Homo sapiens: one gene and its partners. The protein of the gene in region 5 purifies or fractionates together with the protein of the main gene of each other region. This does not show direct contact. Each region holds a gene or a part of one and is shown on either strand. Other genes may lie near its edges. The genes, in order: SOX10, DROSHA, CNOT7, AKAP8L, EPAS1, CHD1L and CUL2.

Region 1 (4,250 bases), on a different chromosome or scaffold from region 5:
GGATGGACCTTGGGTGGAGGAGCTAGCTGTGACCTCTGCTCTTGGGCAGAACTGGGCTGTCTGGGTCCACACAGCGGGCTGGTCGCTGAGCCCTGGGCCTGCCCTGGGTGAGCAGGGCACTGAGGGCTGAGAAGGGGCAGGGGAAGGGGCACCAGGTCTTCAGCAAACACATGGCAAGAACAGGCCAGGGGGCGGGATGTGAATCTTTTGGTCTCTTGGAGATCCTCCTGCACCTTCTACCACTCTAAGCCTCTAGACCCAATCTCTACCCAACTGTGGCTGGCAAGGGGGAGGGCAGCGGAAGAGAGCCGGGCTCCTCTGACAAAGCCCTAATTTTCTGGAACCCAGATGCTCCTCACTCTTGTTCTCATCTTCTTGCTTCCCCCCAACCTCCTGACCACTCCTCAAAGTGTAGGTGATCCACCACTGTCACCAGGGTCAGGGGAAGTCCTCTGGACAGAGAGTATGGGAGTCCTGGGTTCTGGCCCTGGCTCTGCTACCAACTTCTATGTGACCTTTGTGATTCCTTTGCCTTTCTGGGCCTGTCTCTTGGTCAGTCTAGCGAGAATCAGGTGACTGCTACCGGCTCACATCTCCTGGAGTCCCTGGTCTCTTTCAGAGCTGCTCTGGCACTCCCGGGTGGGAGTGGGGGACTGTCTTGTTCCACACATCCCCAGGAGGCCTGGCTGAACCCCAGACCTGAGTCGAGGGTGGGATAATTGCTCCCTGCGGGGGATGTTTTTCCTAGAGGTGTGGGCTGGTCCCAGGGAACCTGGGACTCTGAGGGCCCCTGGGCAGGAAGGAGGCCAAGGTTTCCTTCTGGCCAGAGTGCTCAGCTCCAGCTCTGGGGCAGTGGGGAAGAGGTTGCTCAACGTTGGGGTGGGGCCCTGGCAGGGAAGATGGCGCCGAACTGGGAGAGGGAGGAAAGAGATCAGCTTGGTGACTCTGGGGCAGGGCAGGAGGGGGAGCCCCTTACTGTGTGTCCTCTCCCTAGGAGGATGAAGAAGCCCCCAACTCAAAGGAGGGTGGCGTCAGAAAGTCCCAGGGAAGAGCCCTAGGATAGGATGAGGTCCCGCAGCAGCAGATTTGTCCCGCAGTTCTTCATCCCTCACTCTTCCAAAGACTCTCATCTGAATTCCGTTTTCTTTAAACCTCCCCTGAGTTCTCCATCTGACTGCCTCAGTTTCCCTGAATCTCCAGCCAACCCTTTGGTTCTTTCCAAGCGTTTCCCTCGTATCCTCCTGACCACAGCAGCTGGTGGCATAGTGTGCGTATCTGTGGGCAGGAGTTAGTGAAGGCCTCCTTCCCTCCCTCCAAAGCCCCAGGCCCCACGGTCTGCCACCCGCAAAATTCCAACCACGAGGGGGCGCCTTCCTGCCCGCCGCCCCGTAGGGAGACCCGGCCTAGGCCGCTGGAGTTCCGAGTTCCAGGGTCCTTGTGATGGAAGGGCGGGCGCGGCCCCCACACCTGGTCTTCCAGCCCTATCCAAGGAGGACTGCCAGACAGTCCCGCTCTGAGGTGCAGGAGGCCGGGCCGCCTCGGCTACCCTGAATCCACCCGAAGCTAGAGGGCCCGAGCCCGGGGGGCGGTCGGGTGCTCACCTCCAGAGCTTGCCCAGCGTCTTGCTGAGCTCAGCGTTGTGCAGGTGCGGGTACTGGTCCGCGAGCTTCCTGCGCGCTGCCTGAGCCCACACCATGAAGGCGTTCATGGGCCGCTTGACGTGCGGCTTGCTTTTGCTGGCGCCGTTGACGCGCACGGGCATGGGCACCAGCGTCCAGTCGTAGCCGCTGAGCACCTGGCTGACGGCCTCGCGGATGCACACGGGGAACTTGTCATCGTCCGCCTCGCCGTCCTGCTGCTCCTTCTTGACCTTGCCCAGCTCGCCTGGCCCCGGGCTGGCTCGCAGGCCCGATCCGCCGCCGCCGCCGTCGGGCCCTAGCGAGGGCGCGCTCCCCGGGGACAGGCAGCGGGGCTCCTCCGAGCCCACGGGGCTCAGCTCCACCTCCGATAGGTCCTGCTCCTCCGCCATGTCGCCCCCGGCCGCCGCCGCCGCCGCCTCGGCCGCCTCCCCCGGGCCAGCCGCCGGGGTCCTCGCAAAGAGTCCAACGCCCACCTGGATGGAAGGAGGGCGCGATGGAGCGGCCGCGCGCGCAGCCCCGAGGGCGGCCCGAGACAGGACGTGGGCACAGCCCCGAGGTGGCGGCCCTTCCTGCTCCAGCTAAACCCATCTGGCCCCTGGGGCCCACGCACATGCCAGACTCTAGGTGGGTGCGTCCCGCCTCTGTGTCTTCCCACCACCTGGTCCCAACCGTCTCTTGGTGTGGGTGGCTTTTTTTTTAGCCTCCTTTTTTGGGTGGAGGTTTGTTGATGATAAGGAAGAAAAAAACGGAGCCTTTATTTTGCTCTAATCCCGGCCCCTGGAATTTCCCACCTTTTCTCTCACCTTTCCTTCTTCCCTCAGCCTGCCCCAACGGGGTTTAGAGGAGAGCCAGGTGGGGGGCAAGGGCGGGGTGTCGCCTCTCTCCACCTCACAGCAGGGTCCCAGGCCTGGGCGGGCCAGGGAGGAGCAGGCTGCGCACTCACCTCCTCGGACCTCTCCTCCAGTCTGGGGCTCGTCCTTAGGAAGTGGAAAACCGTGTCCCAAGGTGTGCGGTCCAGCTCGGGGCTGGGAGGTGACGCTGGTGGGCTGGGAGGGAGGGGCGGGGGGCCCTGAGCCTCAGGCCACGGCCTCGTTAGGACGGAGCCTGAATCCTTACCACCAACCACCCTGGCCGGACAGCCCGAGACTGACTGAGCGACTGAGCCTGAGCCGCTGCGGAGGGCTGGGGAAGGAAGGAGGGGGAGAGGGGGGAGGGGAGAGGAGGGAGGGAAGGGCAGAAGGTGGAGCCTCCAGGCTTTCCTTCATCCCCAACACTCAGGGCTCCTCCACCCGGAGCCCAGGCCCCCCCACCCAGCTCCCTGCCCTACTGCCCAGGCCCATCTTGCTGAGGCTTATCTTGGGCTTAGTCTGGGAGGTGGAGGGGAGGTTAGGCCGAGGAAGGAAGAGATGTAGGCTGGAGGGTCAGAACCTGTTGGATGGAAGAAAATTGGGCCCAACCAGGACTCCTAACGTCTGCCTCAGGTGGCAGGATGGGCACTTGGCAGGGGACTAGGGAGAGACGTGAAGGCGGTGAGGGTCCTGGGGGCCCGTGAGGGTGGCTGGCCCTAGCTGCTTCGTCTGCGAAATCCTGTTGAGTGCCTAGTGTGTGCCAGGCACTGATGCCCAGCTCCTCACCCTGCCTCCTACCTTTTCCCAGGCAGCCCTTTCTGCCCCATCCTGCACAGTAAGAGAGACTTCTCAGGGATCCCTCTGAGAAGTGCAGAGCCCCAGCTTGACCCCTGGTCCCTTCTCTGCAGACACCCAGCACACGCGCGTTCTGGTCTGGTTCAAGGTGGAAACACAAGACTAAAGCTGCCAGGAGGCCAAGGTGGGACAGGTTGGGGGCCCTCTCTCAGTAGGTCTTAGAGGCATTTTGGGTTGCTACCTACTGGGACCCAGCTCCTTCCACACTGGGCTCACCCTGTCTTGGGAGAGGGTAGGGGAGTCCTAGTCCTGATTGTCACGAAGTCCTCTACTCCCCCACCCCAACAAGGGGTGGGGACTTGCCCTGCCTCTTCCCTCCTCTGCCCACCTCTCCCTCCCTCCCCTTTTCTTTCCTGCCCATCCTCCGTTGACACCTTTTTCTCTCTCTTTCCTTGGCCTCTCCTCCAAAGGTCGCAGTGCTGTTCTCTTAACTGAGGGCAGCCCCGCCGGGGTGTTGAGGCCGAGGTGGGGTGTATGTGGGTTATGTAATGGAGCTGGGGTCGCATTGGCAACCATGTGACGTTCTGAGCTCCTCAACAGCAGGGCAAAGCCCCAAGACCACCCCAAGGGGTCCTGTCTGGAGTGGGCTGCAAAGGGTCTGGGGAGGCAAGGCCTCATGCTTGGGAAAGTCCAAAGGGGTGTAGGGGGTGGGAAATGGGACACAATGAGGTAGTCACACGAGGCAGAGGCATGTTGGGGGTGGGGGGAGCAGACACTGGAACACACACACACACACACACACACACACACACACATGCTCACACACACAACCAGCCAGACAATCGGGCCAGTGTGTCTGGGGCCTCGGAGCCCAGTGAATTAGGAGTTTGATAAGGGTTTTCTCTTTCTCTCGCTTGCTGGCCTTGGACAATCTCCCCCCAGTTTTCCTCGACGCCACCCCCGGCGC
Region 2 (3,500 bases), on a different chromosome or scaffold from region 5:
TACCAGAAGTATAGTGTGATACAACAATCACGAAATAAACCTGAAGCACATCATCGTTAATCACCAAGGAATGGAGTTTGATACAGACCTCCCTCTGTGCCAGCTTCTGTTTGTCAGTTTGTTTGACTTTGGGACTATTTGCTAGGAGGTGGCGAAGTTTCACATAACTCTTCCACAGTTTTTGGTACCTAAGGAAAAGGACAGGCAAACATCTCAGGTAAAGAGGAGGTAAACCTAAAATGCAACAAAACCAGTTATTTTAAGAGGCCTCTTCAAATCATACATTACATTCTTTTGATTATTCTTAATGGCAGAAAGCCATCATTCTAAGGAAGGCTATGACTTTGAGGCTGAGAGTCAGGATGGACAAGAGTCAACTGGAACCTGGTGATTAAGTTGATTATTGCTTATTTCAGTTGGAAATGAGGTGTGACTATATGAATGAATCTCTGGAAAGAATTCCAAAGACACAAAAACACCTCAACCAAAGGAATCATCCTGTTTCTCACTGTTACCTCTTGAAAATAACAGATTTTATTTAAATATACACTTTCTGATATTTGTTGAAAGAAAGACCCCTTCCTTAGGGAGACTGTCAGTTGCTGAACTACTTATACCAAATATAAGTTGAAGAGTATTAGAATAGAGAACCCCATTTGTGCCAAAACCCAAGCTACATAGCTGTATCCATTTGTCCACTGGAGAGGATAAAAGACTAATGGTGTATACCAATTTGTATTTACCATGACAATATAAGCATATTTGTTGCAGCCAAATAAGTGATAACCTAGACCAGTCTAAAGGATACTGTCAAAGCGTCCTGGAAATGAAGCGAATATGCAGTCCTTTATCAATTCACAGTCCTGCCATCTGAGAGTCCACGAGAGCCTCATCACATTCTACTAACATTTTTCTGACAAGAAGGGATTTTCCAAAGATTTTCTGTCACATTAAAACTGTTCCTTTCTTGGCCTTAGCTGGGCCTCTCCTTTTTTGAAAACTTTTTTTTTTTTTTTTAAGAGAATGGAGGAAAGAAAGAAGTACTTACACAGTGCCTGGTTCACTGCTTCATACTTTTATCCAAAGGGGGAAAAAAAAGAACAAAACCCTTTAGCCTCTTCTAATATATGTCAGCCAGAACTGTATTTATGAATTGAAAATCTCCCATGCCCTTTTCTCCCACTATGAATCCTTTTTAAAAAAAAAAAAAAAATAAGTCAGGAAGCTGTTTGTGTGTTTAGCAAGGTAGGAAATCCAAACAGTCCCGAAGAATCTAATGGTACTATCTCCATTCCCACACATCCTAAATCTTCTCCCAGAAAACACTAACATGCCAGTTGGAAAAATCAAAACGTGGAAAGTTACATCAATCCTAAGAGTCAGAAGTCACGGCTCCTACTTCCAACACAACCTTGACTTTGCATGTGATCTTGAACTCTTAAGATGCCCCCAAAAAGAGAACTCTGCATAAATTCGGCAGTGCTAGGAACCAATATGTGCTACTTTCCTCTAGAGGGCACTGAAAAAATAAAAAATAATAATTATTATTATAAGGATGAATAAAGAAAAAGTTCCTTAAAGTTTAAAAACATACAAGGACTTATGTTGACCAAGTTTGCCAAAAATATTCTATTGAATAATAGTTTCTTGCACTCAAATATGTACAGAAAATAATTCTTCAGGAGCTACCACAATTGTTTCATTTGGGTAATCTAAATTGGAAGTATGGCTCATTTCAGGTCTTAATTTTTAAAAAGGAAACATCCACTAAAGGGTATTTCTCTGCTAATTTGGCTGTTAGTAGAAGGTGAAATTGGCTAAGACAAACACTGAGAAATATCTTACTGTGGGTCTCCTGCATAACTCAACTGTGCAGGGCGTATCCCAAAGTGGACGATAATCGGAAAAGTAATCACATCGGGGTTGAACTGTTCACGATCCAGTTGATCGATACGGACAGAGCTTGGTTTCTAGAGAGAAAAATCAAAGCCATTTATTCCCATAAGAAGTCTTTATGTATTGACTTTAACCTAAGTAGGGAAGGAATAAATCGGACTTTTTTCCAGGAAAGCCTTGTCCCCAAAGGGAAAAGGTCATTTAAAACCCTTTAATTACAGCAGCTATACTATCTAAAAACTATAATGTCATCCTTGTAAATGAGCCTATGCCATTTGGCATAATGAACAATGATTTTGTCCTTTTTTGCAGTCCACATAGAAACCTTTAAAAATTAAACTTTTAAAAGGACACCTAGTCAGATATAACTTTTCCTTAACCTCTCTGAAGGCACAGGGGAAGGATTCCACATCACAGGCAGAGCCTCTTCTGCTTTAATTTCACATTTCAGAATGCACAGATGCCTCTATTTAAGTTTTTTCCCTCACTTGTTCTCAGTGGATCTTATGTATTCCTTTAATTCTACATCTTTAAGTTAGAAAGTATAGTGGTGCAAAGGCCAAATAGTTAAGCTTCTTTTATTATGTCCATGTAGGACATTTGTGTATTTTAACAGAGAGCCTCATATTTTTTTCTTCATGTCTAATAAAGGAAGAAGTGAATGGCTCATTCCTTCTGGATCATTTGTGAAATGGCTTTCATCTTGAAAGCTTAAATTTATGAAAAGATGGTAAAATCACAGAGAACAGGTTTCAGCAACCTCCTTCCTTATAATCACCTCTCAGGACAGTCTCAATTAGAGATTCAGTTTTCACTAGCACACTGTAGAGTCTGCGGCTCAGTTGCTTTGGAGGCTAAGGCTGTTAAAACTGATTCACACAGAGGCCAATAATCTTCATTCTGTCCCACAACAATGCCCAACAATTAGAGTCTGGTTGGCTGCCTGGTTTCCCTGGGACAGAGGAATTTCAATGCTAAAACCAGGAAATCTCTCAGCAACTGGGACAAACTGGTCACTCTACCTACAACTGTGATACCAGCCAGCCATCTGACAAATATTCAATGAGGTGACAAAAGGGATAAACTTGGGTGAATTCACCCACATTACTTAAAACACTCAAACCTTTGGGAGGCCAAGGCGGGTGGATCACGAGGTCAGGAGTTCGAGACCAGCCTGGCCAACATAGTGAAACCCCATCTCTACTAAAAATACAAAAATTAGCCGGGCGTGGTGGCGCACACCTGTAGTCCCAGCTACTCAGGGGGCTGAGGCAGGAGAATCACTTGAACCCGGGAGGCGGAGGTTGTAGTGAGCTGAGATCGCACCACTGTGCTCCAGCCTGGGCAACAGAGTGAGACTCTGTCTCAAAAAACAAAACAAAACAAAAAAAAAACCCCTCAAACTTTTTAAGTGTCATTTAACAAACAAAATGTCACTAGCTTCTTGAAAAGTTGGTCTCTGCTCTCAAAATTTGAAAATGGAAAATATTTTGTTCACATGTAATCCATTATAAAATTATTTAAATGCCCATCAACAGTAGCAACGTGCTATTTAAGGTCAAAGAATTACTTTCATTATTTTGTACAACAAAACAGCAGGATAC
Region 3 (3,500 bases), on a different chromosome or scaffold from region 5:
AATGGTGATGGAATAAAAATAAGCAGATCAAGGGAAGTGTGCTATCATAAAATAACTGTAGCTTCAACATCTTGAGTACCAGTTTCCTGGCAGATAGTAAACATCCAATCACAAGGGATTTTTCCTGAAGGGTGTAAAGCTGGTTTGAAAATTCTTCAGTCACAGAGCAGCCTACACATGCCAATTAGAAACTGACAGACACTAGATGTGCTTGGAAGATTAAACACTACGTACAGAAACAGCAGTTACTAAGCTCCTCAGTAGTTTCTTGTCTTTTTTAAGTTTCGCTGAATCGACAGTTTGCACAACGTGCTATATTCTGTGGGTCAAAACCAAGTAAATACTGTGTAAAGTTGGCAGATTTTTCCAGCTAAGATCAAGAAAAAACAAATTTTCTGATAAAACAGGTTTAGAGTCAGAAACACTCTCTAAAGTGCAAAACTGATGGTCCACGATCTCAAATAGCTAAAACTCCTGCAGAATGGAAGGGAGAGACGTGAAACAGGGAAATAAATTACAGTCAGTGCTAGTTAATTTAGGAAAAGGGAAAAATAAACCAAACTCAAGTCGGTAAAGTTTATCAAAATATTCAATGATGTAGCTTTCCCCACTCTCTGTCACACACGCTTGCTAACAAGTATATTAAATTAAGGCCAAATTTAACCTGAATGCGTTTTTTTTTTTCTTTTTATTAAGATCTGAGATAGGAACGGTCATACTTAGTACTGAAAGGCAGACAATAAAATGGGCCATGAAAGGGGGGGGAAAGGTACTGTCTATTGTTCGAGGGATTCAACCAGAGATAAAACCTATATACAAGCATGTGTGTAGCTCGAAATAAAAATAAAAGGACTATTTCATGTCATGACTGCTTGTTGGCTTCCTCTTCATATGCATTCCCTGTGCCATTCTGTACATAGGATGAACCAGAACCAAGGCCATACAAATGACCACAATATTTGGCATCATCAATATGATCTTCAAAGAACATCTAAAAAGGAATTTTGAAGAAAAAAAAAAGATAATTTTAACCAAAAGGAACCACTTGTAATTTATATTTCAGCAATGTAAGTACTGACTGTTCACTGACAATAATGATGGCTCTTTTCTATGGTGTTCCTTTGAGGCTACGCATTTCAGTTCAATGAGTAAGACTAATGTCCTCAAAAGTACAGAGCTCAGAAACCAAAGAAAGAGACTACAAAAAAAGTGTATAAATGCATGTCTTTTCCATTTAGACCATTTTTATAAGAATTTTTCATCATGGAAAAATAACTATTCCATTAATTTAACAATACTCAAGAATGAAGAAAGCCAATGATGGTGGGGGAAAAAAAGTTTAGGTTCATAAACTGTCTTAAATCTGTATGCAAGGCTGAGCTGGCTATAAATGATCAAACCATAAAGTCATGGACAGTAAAATCCAAACATTCACACTCTATTACTGTCCTTGAAGAAGCCAAGAAAAATAAAGATAAATTAGTGCCAGAAATCCACCTTTAGTTAAATAAACCATTAAGACATTTTTAAAATGCAAAGCTAAAAAATCCAAAAGGTTGTTTCAATTATCTAATGAAACAATTGGAAGGAGTCCAAAACAAAATATTTACGTGTCATGAATGGATAGTCCAAATCACTTCTGAATCAACAACACTACTTAGCAAAACAGCTTTAATGCTTTCTATTATCAATACATTGCTACAAAAAGTTTTAAATTCTCAGTCTCAATTTAATGTCTAAGAGAAAATATACTCAAATCCACAGCGAATTTTTCCAAAAGGGAAAACTTATAGTCAAGAAAAACCTCACTTGTTTTTTGCACAACCAATTTTCCTGTTTACCTATAGCTAGGTGTATCTGTGCACATCACTTAATTACTTAGGAGTAGATAATGGGTTCATTTAGTTTCATTCTTCCATCCCTAACACTTTATACTCAAGGAACTGATCTCTGCCTTTTGCCGTTTAAGGAGGGTTTTCCTAATATGGTTTCTGATGCAACTACTACGTTGGATTTATTTGATCCCTTCGGAATTCAACCCCCCTTTTAAGACTCAATGCAGTAAAAGAGCCTGAGTTCTTCTCTATAAAATCTTCAAAGCACTGAAGAATGACATGAGCAAATAATATATTTATCACCAGTTTAAACCTTAAAAGGGGTCATGCTAGAATAAACCTAATATAAAGATTCCTTGCCTTGTAGGAGGAGCACCAATGGGAGTCAGAAAAGAACTCTGGAGTTCTCCCACTAGTAATGTGTTTAATCATGGAAGTTATTAGCCTGTTTTCTCACCTGAGAAATAATATGGTTGGACCTACATGACTTCTCAGGTAGTTTATGTTTTAAAATTGTTGGTTCTATGATGAACATGTTCTCCCAGTTCCTTCTGAACTACATTTCAAGATGACTTATTTTTGAATACTTTTAAGTGTGGTGGATGTGACTCATATGGTATCTCTAATTATATCTTTACTTAGTAGGTACTTGTTGCCCAAAATCTTTGGCCACAAGATTTTTAATGTTCTCAACCTAACAACCAACTGAGAAAAAGGCAGTGATGTCTTCATACTTCTCTCATTTTGAAAAAGGCCATTCCTGTGAGCAATGAATCAGATCCTGCCTGATGTTGTGGTCCTATCCGTTCCAGCTCTAACTGTTCTGCCACCTCCTGTAATCCACCCTAGAAAAAATAAAAAATTGCTTGTCAAGAAGAAAAATCTTACAAGGCCTAAATTCACAAATTATAAACTTAGACGCTGACCAAAATAAAAATAAACTTTAGTATGTAAAGGTGAATCTTATAAAGATTGGGGGGAAGAAACAGAGAATGTGAATTACTAATGTATTTGTTGAATGCGGAAAAAGTATCATTTAATAGAAAACAAGATCCTAATTGGGAAAATGTATTTTCATCATGTTTTAGGGCATATGACAGGTAAATACTCTCCTAGATATGGGAAGGAAGCAGACCACATATAGGGTAATATTTATCAAGTACACTCATAGTCTATCAATCCAGTAATAATTATAAAACTGAAAAGCTAGTATAACACCATTTTTTTCATATTTTCTTAAACTTCCCACCATCCATTTGTAGTTTTCACTTAATTTTTACAAAACAAAGCCATTATGAATAATCATTAAGAGTATGCTAAATGCTTCACTATGGTTTTCTTAGTTAAGACGAGTATATGCACACAACTCCTTAGAGTGGTCTGCTATAATCCACCTATGTTAATACTCCTAAGATTAAAAAAGAAAGATGAGAGTGGAAAGAGTGGAAAGAAAGAAAGAGAAAGACAGTAACAGAAGGAAAGAAAGTGGGAGGACAGGCAAGGAGAGTAAAGGGAGGGGAGAATAAGTAGAGCGTGAAGGAAAGAAACACCAACAACAAAACAAAAATTCTTCTCTAACTTGTTAAGGCCTCCACCGGCAAAATGGCCCTTCTGTGCATCACAGCTTGAAACAAGGCTTTGCACAGCAGTTGCTTCTGCGCTAAA
Region 4 (3,500 bases), on a different chromosome or scaffold from region 5:
TTTTCCCCTCCCCTCCCCGCCCCCTCTCCCAGACAAGAGTCTTGCTCTGTTGCCCAGGCTGGAATGCAGTGGCGCGATCTTGGCTTGCTGCAACCTCCACCTCTCAGGTTCAAGCAATTCTCCTGCCTCAGCCTCCCGAGTAGCTGGGATTACAGGCATGTGCTACCACGCCCGGCTAATTTTTGTATTGTTAGTAGAGACGGGGTTTCACCATGTTGGCCAGGCTGGTCTCGAACTCTTGATCTTATGAGCCACCCACCTCAGCCTCACAAGGTGCTGGGATTACAGGCGTCAGCCACTATGCCAGGCCCAAGAGGGATGGTTTTTGAGGTGGTTGTTTGAGATTTATTCTGAACCCAGGGAGTCTGTTCTTAGCTATTTCACTGGTCCTTGTCCTCTTTGGTAACCTAGTTAGCCTATGGGTTAGCTAATATCACTGTCAAATCTACCGGTCCTTCTTTTTTATGGCTGTGTGGTGGGGGAAAAAAAAAAGGACAAAGCTATCAGTGTTTAACTCCAATAAATATTCAGAAAGAAAAAAAAAAGCTATCAATGTCCTTTTAATTTTTTTCCTCCCTAGTCTCCATTGTTTTTGAGAGAGGCCCTAGTCTTGCACTTCCCAACACTCTTGCCAGTGAAGTCAGTCAGTTCCTTTGAGATTGGGAGTTTACTGATTTAAGGCCGTGCTCTCACTGTGGGCAGAATCTCTGAGCCAAGGCTCTGGGGATGGAGACAATGGAGTACCTCTCTCTGAGTGACTCTGCCACTTTAGGAGAGACATGGGAGGAGGTACAGTAGGCTGTAGCCTCCGGTCTTGGTTTGCCTTTCCTGGCATGGGACCTCTGCTTTATGAACAAGCCATGGGTATGTGAGCCCTTATATTCTTAGTGTGCCATGCCCAGGGTCAAGCCTCCATTCCACGTGCGTGTGGCTGGGTAGAAGATAGGAACCGTTCTCTCTCAGCTATGCTTGTCTAGAACTTAGCCTCATCAGCAGGTAGCTGGGGGCGGGATGAGAGATACTGACATCCGGCTGGGTACAGTGGCTCACGCCTGTAATCCCAGCACTTTGGGAGGCCAAGGTGGGCAGATCACCTGAGGTCAGGAGTTCAAGACCAGCCTGGACAACATCGTGAAACCCCATCTTTACTAAAAATACAAAAATTAGCCGGGCTTGGTGGCGGGCACTTGTAATCCCAGCTACTCGGAAGGCTGAGGCAGGAGAATTGTTTGAACCCGGGAAGTAGAGGTTGCAGTGAGCCGATATCACGCCATTGCACTCCAGCCTGGGCAACCAAGAGTGAAACTCCAACTCAGAAAAATAGATGCTGACATTCTGTTCCTCCTGGGAAGATATCATACCCCTTAACTGAGATGATCTGGGTAGATGCGGGCAGACCTGTCTTCTTGGCTGTACTGTCTGGAGTGGAGTTTCCATCACACTAAGCTGGGGGAGGCAGGGATGCAATAGGTTGTGTTTCAGACATCACAACTCTTCATGGAACTGAGTTTTAGTAGCTTTTCCTCATTAAATCTTTCTCATAGGGCTGTATGTCCTTAGGAACATTTTCAGAGACTTTAAATGGTTGTTTTTTAATACTTTTCATCAGTTTCACTAGGGAGTGTTCCAGGGAACGCCTCAGACTGCTATGCTAGAGTCTGTCCTCTCAATATTTAGGAAGCTTCTTAAACCTTAATTCCAAAATTCTGATAAAGATGATACCAAAATGAAACTGTAGATTAGTTTACTATTATTAAAGATATGAAAGTGGGCTGGATTGGCCGGGCGCGGTGGCTCATGCCTGTAATCCCAGCACTTTGGGAGGCCGAGGCAGGCGGATCACGAGGTCAGGAGATCAAGACCATCCTGGCTAACACGGTGAAACCCCATCTCTACTAAAAATACAAAAAATTAGCCGGGCGTAGTGACGGGCGCCTGTAGTCCCAGCTACTCGAGAGGCTGAGGCAGGAGAATGGTGTGAACCCAGGAGGCGGAGGTTGCAGTGAGCCGAGATCGCGCCACTGCACTCCAGCCTGGGCAACAGAGTGAGACTCCTCAAAAAAAAAAAAAGAAAAAAAAGAAAGAAAGTTGGCTGGATATAGTGGCTTATACCTGTAATCCCAGCACTTGGGGAGACTGAGGTGGGAGGATCATTTGAGCCCAGGAGTTCAAGACCAGCCTGGGCAATATAGTGAGACACTGTGTCTATAAAATTAAAAATAAAAAAATTAGCCAGGTACTGGGGCCTGTGGTCCCAGCTACTTGGGAGGCTGAGGTGGGAGGATCACCTGAGCCCAGGAGGTTGAGGCTGCAATGAGCTGTGATCGTGCCACTGCATTCCAGCCGGGGCAACAGAGCAAGACTCTGTCTCAAAAAAATAAATAAAATGAAGTGCTAAATAAAATATTAGTAACTATCAATCTAGTAGTGATCCCTATGTATGATACATTATAAGTAAGGTTTGTTTCTGGAATGGAGGGATGGTTCCCTAAGAAATCTAGCAACAGTTGCCGGGCGCGGTGGCTCATGCCTGTAATCCCAGCACTTTGGGAGGCCGAGGTGGGTGGATCACGAGGTCAGGAGATCGAGACCATCCTGGCTAACACGGTGAAACCCCATCTCTACTAAAAATACAAAAAATTAGCCAGACGTGGTGGCGGGCGCCTGTAGTCCCAGCTACTCGGGAGGCTGAGGCAAGAGAATGGCATGAAAGGCCGGGCGCGGTGGCTCACGCCTGTAGTCCCAGCACTTTGGGAGGCCGAGGCGGGCGGATCACGAGGTCAGGAGATCGAGACCATCCCGGCTAAAACGGTGAAACCCCGTCTCTACTAAAAACACAAAAAATTAGCCGGGCGTGGTGGTGGGCGCCTGTAGTCCCAGCTACTTGGGAGGCTGAGGCAGGAGAATGGCGTGAACTCGGGAGGCGGAGCTTGCAGTGAGCCGAGATCCCGCCACTGCACTCCAGCCTGGGCAACAGAGCGAGACTCCGTCTCAAAAAAAAAAAAAAAGAGAATGGCATGAACCTGGGAGGCGGAGCTCGCAGTGAGCTGATATCGCGCCACTGCACTCCAGCCTGGGCGACAAAGCGAGACTCCGTCTCAAAAACAAAAACAAAAAATCTAGCAATATTATTGGTATAATGCAAACTCTCTTTATGTGCAAATAATGTGATTATGCTCTTAGAAAAGCTGAATGATCCCAGCAAAATGTTCTTAGAATTAATAGAATTTGGTAAGGGGATGGGATTCAAAATAGCGTACAAAAAGTCGTAGTGTTTCTCTATTCTAGTATTAACCAGTTAGAAATTTAAATGGAAAAAAAACTACTTAAAATAACCACACAATGTATGAAATAGCTAAGAATACAGATTTAAGAAGAAAGACTTGAGGGCCAGGCATGGTGGCTCATGCCTGTAATCCCAGCACTTTGGGGAGGCTGAGGCGGGTGGATTGCCTGAGGTCAGGAGTTTGAGACCAGCCTGGCCAACATAATGAAACCCT
Region 5 (2,791 bases):
TGCTCTGTCTCTGGCCGAGGGGATCTCTGCTCTTCCCAATCACAGTCTACCTGGGAAGACCCTACTCCAGCCCAGCCGCCTCCAAATTGAAGTCCTAATGCCCAGGCTGCCCCTTTCCCTTCGGGACCTCCATCCCAAAGTGCACTATGTGAATATACAGAACAGTGTGGCTCTCAAACGACTTCATGTAATTTTCTGAAAGCAGAGACCATGACTTCTTTCCTTGGGTTCCCCATAGGATACAAAAAATGGCCCCGAGGCACATAGATAGATAGATAGAAAAATACTTGCAGAAATATGGAAGATACAATATGAATTTTCAGACTTAGGCAACTACCAAGTATTTAACACAGTCTTTCCTTCACCAGTCTTATCAGCTCACTTCAGTAGTCTCATAAAGGTCTGTGCTAATGTTCAATTTATATGAACGACTTAATACTTCACTTTACATTGGCATAGCCCATGATAAATCCACAGGAAATAAGAGCCACCAGCAGTGGTAGGATCAGAATACTTTAATAAGATACCAGTGTCAAAATACATTTCCTTATAAAGTTAAGCTCCCATACAGTTATAATGTTGTCAGTAGGAATTCGACAATATAATAACGTTCATGAAATCGTTACGTTGACAGGTAGGGTTAATATGAAGCTTGGAATATTTTTCAGTGTTTTAGTAAAACTGCAAGGGTAAAATGCCCTTAATGCCAGGGCAACACACACAGGAAATCAAATACCAGCATTTACACGTCAGTAACCCTTCAAGTTCTGCCACCCTGTGTGGGGTAATGCCGTGCAGCTAAAATATGATTTACGCAACACCATGACTAAGGAATTTCTCATAGAACTTAAATTTCTTTTGAAAGCTATTTTTTGTTTTTGGCAATAAGTCTATCCGGGCTTACTAAATAGTTGGCCCAATGTGCTTTGTGTGTGTTTTTAGAAACTTCTTCATTGTACCCATTACAGAAAAGTTCCATGTAATTGGTATTGAAAAACCAGAGGTGTCGTCCCTCTTACCCAGGGAGTTGCAAAGTGCTCTGGGAACACTATTTTCAGTGCTTCCTACCTACATGTCACTGACCGACCCAGAGACCTCAGCCAGGGCCTGTGGCTAGGGGCCATCCCTGGAGGCCTTGCGGGGCCATCTGGCTGCCGGCTGAGTGGGGGCTGCAGGGCTGGTCTGGACCAGCTGCTCTCCCGCTGTGCAGCCTCCTCCTCAGTCCAGCTCCACGGGGCTCCAAGGTCGTGAGCTTGGAGGACGTGGACGGGGTCACTATACCATTTTTGACCCCTCATTTGCATGAATTCCCGTCTAAACCATCTCATGGTAGTTCTGGAAATGTCCAAATGTGCCGTGTGAAAGACCATCCGAGTCACATAGCTCAGTGCACTTGAAGGGCTAGCAACAAAACCTTAAGAAAAGTTAGAGCACTTCCCCGCCCCACCCCCCGACCCCACAACGTGCCATCAGACCCTCTTGGCAGCAATAATAATAATACATACATACATAGTACATAGAGAATGTGAGGGGATAGCGCGCAGTGCTCCCGCTGAATGACTCCACTGCTCGGATTGTCACACCTATGGCATATCACAGATGGCAAAAAGCCGACAGAGGGAGGCCTTCCACAGTGTCCGTACAGGCCGTGGGAGCACTGGACAAGTCTGCAGTGTCCACAACACTAAGAAAAATTAACAGCTTCGAAAAGATCTTAAAGTGATTTTGTGAGCAGGATTCCATTTCCGTTTCTAAGTTTTTAGATATTACAAAGTACCCATATATATGATAAACACTTAACCCAGATATAAATTTTCTCCTCTTTTAAAAAACTCAGTTATGTTTTTGAATAATAATAAAAAATCCACCAAATGCGGGGGAAAAACACCAGTTTAGGAAAAGCCACGCTGTGCAACTTTCACAGATAACCACATACGTTGGAGTTGACCCTTCACATTTCTTTTTTTCCAAAATTAGAGCAAAGAGTCAGCTTAAACAAAAAAAAAAAAACCCTGAAATTTACAATATGGTGATTAGTTTAAAAAAGAAACGAGAAGGGCTCTGCGAGGGAGACGCCACAAACCAAGCTTGGAAAGCAAAATCATTTTTGTTTCTCTTTGGCAACAACAATAACGAGGAATCTTTTTAGTAAAATGAAGCTAAAGCTTCTCCCTACAGAAGAACAGACATGCACCAAACTTGTTAGTATGGACAGTTGTGTGTGAGAAGGAGAAGGAGGGAGAGAAACCTATGGATAATATAAATTAGAAGTCATTGAAGGTGGGGAGGAAAAAAATCCTACAAAATTTAAGAACATTTCAGAACAGGTAAAACAATTGTGTACTTTAAAAATAGGGATAATAAAGTGAGCATCTCAGAAAAAGGCCACTGCTTGGTGACCTGGGCAAGTCTGCCAGGTAAGTCCATCTTGTAAATAGTGTGCTGGCGTTAGAAATACCTAGTTGCAAAAACAGACGGAGAGAGTGAAGCTGGTGGGACGGCGTCGGCAGAGGTGCTGCCCAGGTAGAAGGCCTGGCTCAGGTGGCCTGGTCCAGGGCTCTGAGGAGGTCCCCTCCTTGCAGGAGCGTGGAGCTTCCCAGCACGGGCACGTTCACCTCACAGTCATATCTGGTCAGTTCGGGCAGCAGGTAGGACTCAAATGAGGGCCCGAGCAGCCGGCTTGCCATGCCTGAAAGAAGGGTTGGTACCATAACTTAAAGGCCTAAATCGAACATTTGGAAAAGTGTCTACTTCTTTGTGACTGGGGGATACCAATAGAGCAGCCCTAATT
Region 6 (3,500 bases), on a different chromosome or scaffold from region 5:
CATCTCCTACATCTCATGGATTACAGAAATTAAATGGAAAAAGCACATGACAAAGTCCGCACTGTTGATGAACGCAAAATAAATGCTTAATGTTAGCTGCAATTTTAAAAACAAGTAATTCTACTGTTTAGAAGAGGAATCGCTATGTGCAAAGCATCATACCAAGGATGGTAGGCTTTACTAATAAAGAAGAAGATGTTTGCAACCAAGGGAGAAAAGGTACAAATTCAAAGCCTTAAGATTGATACTATCATAAACATTAATACTATGATTTTGGTTCACAGTTCAGCTACAAGGGAAGAGCCACACAAATTTCCAGTTAGTTTGGGTAACGTTCTTTTATCAAGCAAGTCTTAAACAGTGTGCCCAAATGACAATAGGGTAAGGGAGAAAAAAGATGCCCCAGAGAGCAGCATCCAAAACTTTCCATGGGGACGTGAGCTCTAGCTTGGGGTGGTTGTGCCATTTGCTCTGCTCTAACCTCCAACTTACTTCCTTCCTCTTGATCTCTGCTCCCTCCTTCTGCTGCAGGCAAGGCATCAGAGACCCACTGGCCATCTTTTGTTTCTCCCAGGATGGACTCCAGGTCTATTTCATCCATGGTGCTCCCCTCAGAGGCCAGCAGTTTATCCAAACCAAATTTGAGTATCTCACTCAACTTGAATAGAGGAAACAAAAAAGTCCAGCAAATTCTCATGAAAAGAAACATTAGGATATCAGTGATTGGCTAAGTGGATTAACGACACCAGGCACAGTCCTTCTCTAATGAACAGGCAGCCTTTCTGCTCTCCCCATCATAGATAGTAACAGCCAGGGCCATTTAATAGTTGGATGATGGGTAAGCAGAGAGGTGATAAATGATTATCAGAGGTATTGACTTTGACAATTCTGCATAAAAACAAAACAAAAAAAATGTATAAGCCTCCAATTTTTTTGAAGAATAATAGTAACTTCCTGCATTTTCTACAGCACCTCTCACTGACTTTTTCATAAGCATTCCCAGCAGCCACTTGAGATCAGAGACCCTGTTAGCTACTTTCCAACCTCTCCACTGCCAGACTCCTTAGAAAGGGAAGGCTACACTAGGAACTTTACCTCTATCATGAACTGACTCCTTTTCTTTGGCAATTTGTTTTCCTAACACAGTGGTCTATCGAAACCACCTTGGCAAAGATCAGTAACAACTTCTGACCACCAGACCCGAAGGCCTTTTCTCAGTTTGAATTTTTCTGGATGTTCCTCTGGCATTGCACTATCCTGCTTCTCTTCTCTCGTCCCTCTCTGGAGTACTCTCAGCCTATTCCCTATGGCTGTAGGAACCATGCAGAAAGCACAGATAATTTTTCCTGGCTTTCACTTGCTACTTCCAACTTTGCACCTCCGTAAGCACTAATTCTGAGATCCTGACCCAAGGTGGATTCAAACCTTGGGCCCTTGTTCTCATCTTGCCCTTTTAGACTGGGTTATCTCCAGATCGTCTATTTTGTGAGTAACTTGGAAATGTTAAGGTATTCTGTAACAGCTTGAAGAAACAATAGACAGCTCACTTAAGCATGAATGTACCTAGATATATTATATTTACCCTCCATACACATAACCAGGATGACTGGCTTTGGCAGCTGGTACCAAAAATAGTAGGAAGCCAACTATTTATGATAAGAATTGGTCCATACTGGGACCCTCCCTTTCACCCCCTTGTACTTATGCTCACCTCCTGGCTCTCCCTTGTTATTGCTCACTTGCAATGTGTCTTAGTCATTAAGAAAATTACATGTGTTTTTATGAGAAGCTGTATATTACAGTAATTAAGGGCATGTGCTCGGAGGTTAGAGAGTGCTTGGATTGGAATCCTAAATCTGAATAACCTTGGGCAAATTACTTAAGATGGGGATAAAGATAGTGTCTATCTCATCCTGCTGTTATTCTTATTTACTGAAACAACTGGAAAAGAGCACCTCAGACAACACTCAGCACACAGTATCCAATAAGTGTTCACTACACCTGCATCTGCCTGCCTGTTTCTACTGTGTCCTCCCTGCAGGATAAAAAACCTGTTTCCTTCTTTCAGGACTTCAGAACTCCATACCTACTGCTTAGATTTACCAAATCAGAACCACATCTTTTACTTTTGGTTTCTTGGTATTTAAAAAAAAAAAAATACCCCCAGGCGCAGTGGCTCATGCCTGTAATCCCAGCACTTTAGGAGGCCGAGGTGGACGGATCACAAGGTCAGGAGATCAAGACCAGTCTGGCCAACATGGTGAAACCCCGTCTCTACTAAAAATGCAAAAATTAGCTAGGCGTGGTGGTGCGCGCCTGTAGTCCCAGCTACTCAGGAGGCTGAGGCAGGAGAATTGCTTGAACCCGGGAGGCAGAGGTTGCAGTGAGCTGAGATCGCGCCACTGCACTCCAGCCTGGCAACAGAACGAGACTCTGTCTCAAAAAAAAAAAAAAAAAAAAACCCAAAAAACAAAAACAAACAAAAATCCCCTGCTTTCTTTTTAGACAAGGGCTCTGGGTTATCACCTTTGCTTTTGGTAACCACAAATAACTCATAGCATCTGCATGGGGAAGAGATAAATCAGACATTAGAGTCAGAAAGTAACTTTCCGATAACCATGAGCTGGGCAAGAAGTCCAACAGAGTCGCTCTCAGCCAGCAGTCCATGTTCCCACTCGTTTGTGGCCCCATGGGGTGGAGGTATGTCTACATCTTTCACAGTGATGTGTCCAGCAGCCCACATCACAAGATACCCCTCATTGGACCCCTGGCGCTCCCTCCACTGGGAGAGTGCAAACAACCTATGACATCCTTCCTCCTCTAACAAGAGAATGCGGGCCTTGTGAGGCTCTGTCATTTACCCCTTCACTATGCCCAGCAGTGACCTTCTCTCTCTTAAGGTTCTATGGATAATTTTTCTGTGGAAAACTGCATTTAAGGGTATCTACAGCGTACCTCTACCTCTCTCTCAAGCTTTCATCTCACATTTATAATTGTCTCTTAGTGTGAAAACAAAATGTACAGCCTGCCCTAGCACCATTATGGTTAATTAAGCATGCATGTGACACAGTCAGCAACACAAGGAAAGTCAGAAAAAGAAAAAAGCCACACCTACCCCCTAAGATAAACAAAGAACAAACCCAGTGTTACTCTTTCTAGTTCTAGTCCCAAAATTAATAAAACCTTGAGCCTTTCCTGTAATTACTAACTCCCTAACAAAAACAACAGGATCCCTGTCTTTTGCAACACTGATATGTAAAGATATGCACTGGCCTTTGCAGATACGGTAACCATGTAAGAAAACTGCTGTTTTTTCAGACTAATTACAAACTTAGTAACTCTGCTTCTAATATTGTGTCACTTTTTCTCTCTTAAACACTTATGTTTTTTGATGGACTAGTCCTTTCCAATCCTAGTCCATCTTGCAAACTTTTACAAATAAAATTCTTTCCTTTTGTCTGAGTCTGCCTCTAACAATAGTTTGTTTATATTGTATTTTT
Region 7 (3,500 bases), on a different chromosome or scaffold from region 5:
TTTGGTTTTTATAAATATAAATGTTTTATTTTTAAATGTAGGAAGATATTGATGCAGAATCTTCGTTTTCATTAAATATGAACTTTAGCAGTAAAAGAACAAAATTTAAAATTACTACATCAATGCAGAAAGACACACCACAAGTAAGTGCTTTTAATGTCAAGTTTTTTTTGAGGGGGAAACATTTAAGCATTGGACTTTACAAGTGTTTACATTGAGATTGTGCAAAACTTTGCACAGCAAAATTAATAATGGGATATGTCTTTTCTGGTTTGTTGTTGGCATTTATTAACCTTACAGTCAAACAGAAATCTCTACTTGTATTTTAGTTTTTTCTAAGGAAAAGGGTATGGTTTTGTTGTATTTGCTCTTAAACCATTAGAATGTGTAACTATGCATTCTCTCCGAAAATTCCCACATTGAGAAGTAATAAAATTTCATATTTTTCATTTGTAAAATAAGGGAAAGTTCTCCAGTTCATTTTTTTTTTTTTTTTTGAGACGGAGTCTTGCTCTCTCGCCCAGGCTGGAGTGCAGTGGTGTGATCTCGGCTCACTGCAAGCTCTGCCTCCCGGGTTCACGCCATTCTCCTGCCTCAGCCTCCTGAGTAGCTGGGACTACAGGCGCCCACCACTATGCCTGGCTAATTTTGTTTTTTGTACTTTTAGTATAGACGGGGTTTCACTGTGTTAGCCAGGGTGGTCTCGATCTCCTGACATCGTGATCCGCCCGCCTCAGCCTGCCAAAGTGCTGGGATTACAGGTGTGAACCACCGCGCCTGGCCTACAGCTCATTTCTTTCAAAGAAAATTTGTCAGTAGAAAATGCTTCTTAAACTTTCATATGCAAATGAGCCACCTGGGCATCTTGTTCAAATGCAGATTGTGATCTAGTGGGTGTGGAGTGAGGTACTGACAGGCCAGTGTGAGGAGGGGACTTCTGCTCTTCATTATTTTAACTCAGCAGTGATTGTTGCTTTGGTCTGGGATAGACTGTTTCTATCACTTATGCTTCCTGATTGCCTCCGGTGTGCAGTCCTTGGGCTGATGCAGGATGTGAAGATAATATAAGATGTTAGACCCTCTCCAGAAACTTAATTCCCGATGGGGGGAGACAAATATTAACTGCCATTTACTTTGAAACCTAAAATGGTCAAGATTCCATTTTCCTCCAGGCTAATAAATAATAATTTGCAATATATAGATTGTATTTTGTCTTTGAAACGCTGTGAGGAGATCCTCTTAATGTGGCATGGTCTGCTTCTATGCCTTGCTTCTGTGTTTCTTGAGCTCCGTGGAGATAGGCCCCCTCTCCTGGCTTCTCTGCTTGAGCCACATAAAATGCCACTTCACAGCTCTTCCCTTTGAAGCCTGATCCAGTATGCATTTGGAGCTAATTACTGCAGTTGACACAACTCCATCTAAAAGCGTCATGAAAGATTCTGTAATCACTGATAAGAAAATGATCTTGCAAATTATTGCTGTGTCCTCCTTTATTGCCTCTTTACCTTAACAGTACAGTTTACAATAATGTAAATTTTTTTCTAATCTTTCAACTTTAACCCTAGAAATTGTAGATGTTTTAGCAGTGGTTATGTGATATTGGCACAACATAACTATATAATTTGCTCAATATTGTGGTGCATACCTGTAATCCCAGCTGCTCAGGAGTCTGAGGCATGAGAATCACATGAACCCAGGAGATGGAGGTTGCGGTGAGCTGAGAGCGAGTCACTGAACTCCAGCCAGGACGACAGAGTGAAACCCTGTCTCAAAAAAAAAAAAAAAAAAGTATTTGCACTCACTGATAAAATGAATTGAAAACAAGTTCAGTGACTTAATGTCTTGTTGGGTCTTTTTTCTTTTCTTCTGTAAAACAGGAAATGGAGCAGACTAGAAGTGCAGTTGATGAGGACCGGAAAATGTATCTCCAAGCTGCTATAGTTCGTATCATGAAAGCACGAAAAGTGCTTCGGCACAATGCCCTTATTCAAGAGGTAAAAGGAGGGCAGTCCTCAGGGCTTCTTAGGGTAGAGGGCATTGTCATTGTACAGATTCAGTCTCTTTCTTCTTAAAGAGGATACAGAAATAACCTGATCCTCAGATAGCATAAAGAAATGTTTCATACTTAATCAGAATCGTACTCACTCACAATTTCAGTATTAAATTCAGATTTGCAGGCTGGGCACAGTGGCTCATGCCTGTAATCCTTTTTGTTGTTGTTGTTGAGACAGAGTCTTGCTCTGTCGCCCAGGCTGGAGTACAGTGGCGTGATCTTGGCTCACTGCAACCTCTGCCTCCCAGGTTCAAGTGAGTCTCCTGCCTCAGCCTCCCGAGTAGTTGGGAATACAGGCGTGCACCACCATACTTGGCTAATTTTTGTATTTTTCGTAGAGACAGGGTTTCACCATGTTGGCCAGGCTGGTCTCGAACTCCTGACCTCAGGTGATCCACCTGCCTCGGCCTCCAAAAGTGCTGGGGTTACAGGTGTGAGCCACCATGCCCAGTGGACACCTGTAATCTGAATGTCTTGTTAGGCCAAGACAGGAGGATCACTTGAGTCCAGGAGTTTCAGACCAGCCTGGGCAACACAGGGAGACCCCATCTCACCTAAAAAAAAAAAAAAAAAAAAATTAAAAAATTAAAAAATTAGCCAGTTGTGGCGGCACACTTGTAGTACCAACTACTTGGGAGGCTGAGGCGGGAGGATTGCTTGAGCCCAGGGATTGAGCCTGTGTGACACAGTGAGATGCTATCTCAAATGATAATAATAAATTCATATTTGCTTTGGCTTTATTTTAGAGGTCTAAAACTTGCTGATTCATTGAGTCTTCTGTCCAGTTATTGAAGGAAATTGACCCATCAGATATTCATTCATTCCATAACTATCTGAGCCTACCATGTGATAGACAGCTGGGCTGGTCCCTGGGATATAGCACAGAGCAGCTGAAGATATGGCAGGCTTTTTTGGAGTTCACAGTTTAATGGGGGAAGAAATACACTATTGAAATGATATGCAAATAAATGTAAAATTACATTAGCATGCACTGAAGGAAACGTATACAGTACTATGAGAATGTATTTAAATATCCTGGCCTAGGGGCTGCTGGGGAAAACTTTCTTGAGAAAGTGTTTGAACTAAGAGCTGAGAGTTGAGTTAAATAGAAGCTTGGGGTTGTGTGTGAGTACTTAGGTTAATTAGTTTATTGTTTCACTTAATTATGTATCATTATTAGATTTTGCTGTATCCATTTTCCACATTGTAGTTCCTATTTTCATACTTAATTTGGCCCATTTGTTGAAACCTCAGTACATTTGAGGCACTTTAAACTGATTGGTTAAAAGTCATTACTTAATAGCTGAAGAACTGGCAGTAGTTTGACTTCCACATCTCTTCCACAGGTGATTAGCCAGTCAAGAGCTAGGTTTAATCCCAGTATCAGCATGATTAAGAAGTGTATTGAAGTTCTGATAGACAAACAATACATAGAACGCAGCCAGGC

Evidence for each region.
Region 1: the proteins of EPAS1 (region 5) and SOX10 purify together in Homo sapiens (affinity purification with western blotting; one study listed by BioGRID). This does not show direct contact.
Region 2: the proteins of EPAS1 (region 5) and DROSHA purify together in Homo sapiens (co-immunoprecipitation; one study listed by IntAct). This does not show direct contact.
Region 3: the proteins of EPAS1 (region 5) and CNOT7 purify together in Homo sapiens (affinity purification with mass spectrometry, with the first as the bait; one large-scale study listed by BioGRID). This does not show direct contact.
Region 4: the proteins of EPAS1 (region 5) and AKAP8L purify together in Homo sapiens (affinity purification with mass spectrometry, with the first as the bait; one large-scale study listed by BioGRID). This does not show direct contact.
Region 6: the proteins of EPAS1 (region 5) and CHD1L purify together in Homo sapiens (affinity purification with western blotting; one study listed by BioGRID). This does not show direct contact.
Region 7: the proteins of EPAS1 (region 5) and CUL2 purify together in Homo sapiens (affinity purification with western blotting; 2 studies listed by BioGRID and IntAct, with this or other methods). This does not show direct contact.

What each region holds. Positions count from the first base shown.
Region 1 is NC_000022.11:37,981,756-37,986,005, forward strand, and holds the start of SOX10 (transcription factor SOX-10), read right to left. Parts: upstream 2,801-4,250; 5' UTR 2,584-2,800; intron 2,114-2,583; 5' UTR 2,030-2,113; coding exon 1,602-2,029; intron 1-1,601. UniProt on the Homo sapiens protein: Transcription factor that plays a central role in developing and mature glia.
Region 2 is NC_000005.10:31,466,094-31,469,593, forward strand, and holds part of DROSHA (ribonuclease 3), read right to left. Parts: intron 1,971-3,500; coding exon 1,846-1,970; intron 189-1,845; coding exon 89-188; intron 1-88. UniProt on the Homo sapiens protein: Ribonuclease III double-stranded (ds) RNA-specific endoribonuclease that is involved in the initial step of microRNA (miRNA) biogenesis.
Region 3 is NC_000008.11:17,229,858-17,233,357, forward strand, and holds part of CNOT7 (CCR4-NOT transcription complex subunit 7), read right to left. Parts: intron 2,681-3,500; coding exon 2,570-2,680; coding exon of another isoform or gene 2,564-2,569; exon of another isoform or gene 1,655-2,563; intron 992-1,654; coding exon 863-991; 3' UTR 320-862; coding exon of another isoform or gene 278-319; 3' UTR 1-277. UniProt on the Homo sapiens protein: Has 3'-5' poly(A) exoribonuclease activity for synthetic poly(A) RNA substrate. Its function seems to be partially redundant with that of CNOT8.
Region 4 is NC_000019.10:15,384,489-15,387,988, reverse strand, and holds part of AKAP8L (A-kinase anchor protein 8-like), read left to right. Parts: intron 1-3,500. UniProt on the Homo sapiens protein: Could play a role in constitutive transport element (CTE)-mediated gene expression by association with DHX9. Increases CTE-dependent nuclear unspliced mRNA export.
Region 5 is NC_000002.12:46,384,407-46,387,197, reverse strand, and holds the end of EPAS1 (endothelial PAS domain-containing protein 1), read right to left. Parts: intron 2,690-2,791; coding exon 2,538-2,689; 3' UTR 501-2,537; downstream 1-500.
Region 6 is NC_000001.11:147,277,184-147,280,683, reverse strand, and holds part of CHD1L (chromodomain-helicase-DNA-binding protein 1-like), read right to left. Parts: intron 659-3,500; coding exon 493-658; intron 1-492. UniProt on the Homo sapiens protein: ATP-dependent chromatin remodeler that mediates chromatin-remodeling following DNA damage.
Region 7 is NC_000010.11:35,010,342-35,013,841, reverse strand, and holds part of CUL2 (cullin-2), read left to right. Parts: intron 1-41; coding exon 42-143; intron 144-1,877; coding exon 1,878-1,994; intron 1,995-3,399; coding exon 3,400-3,500.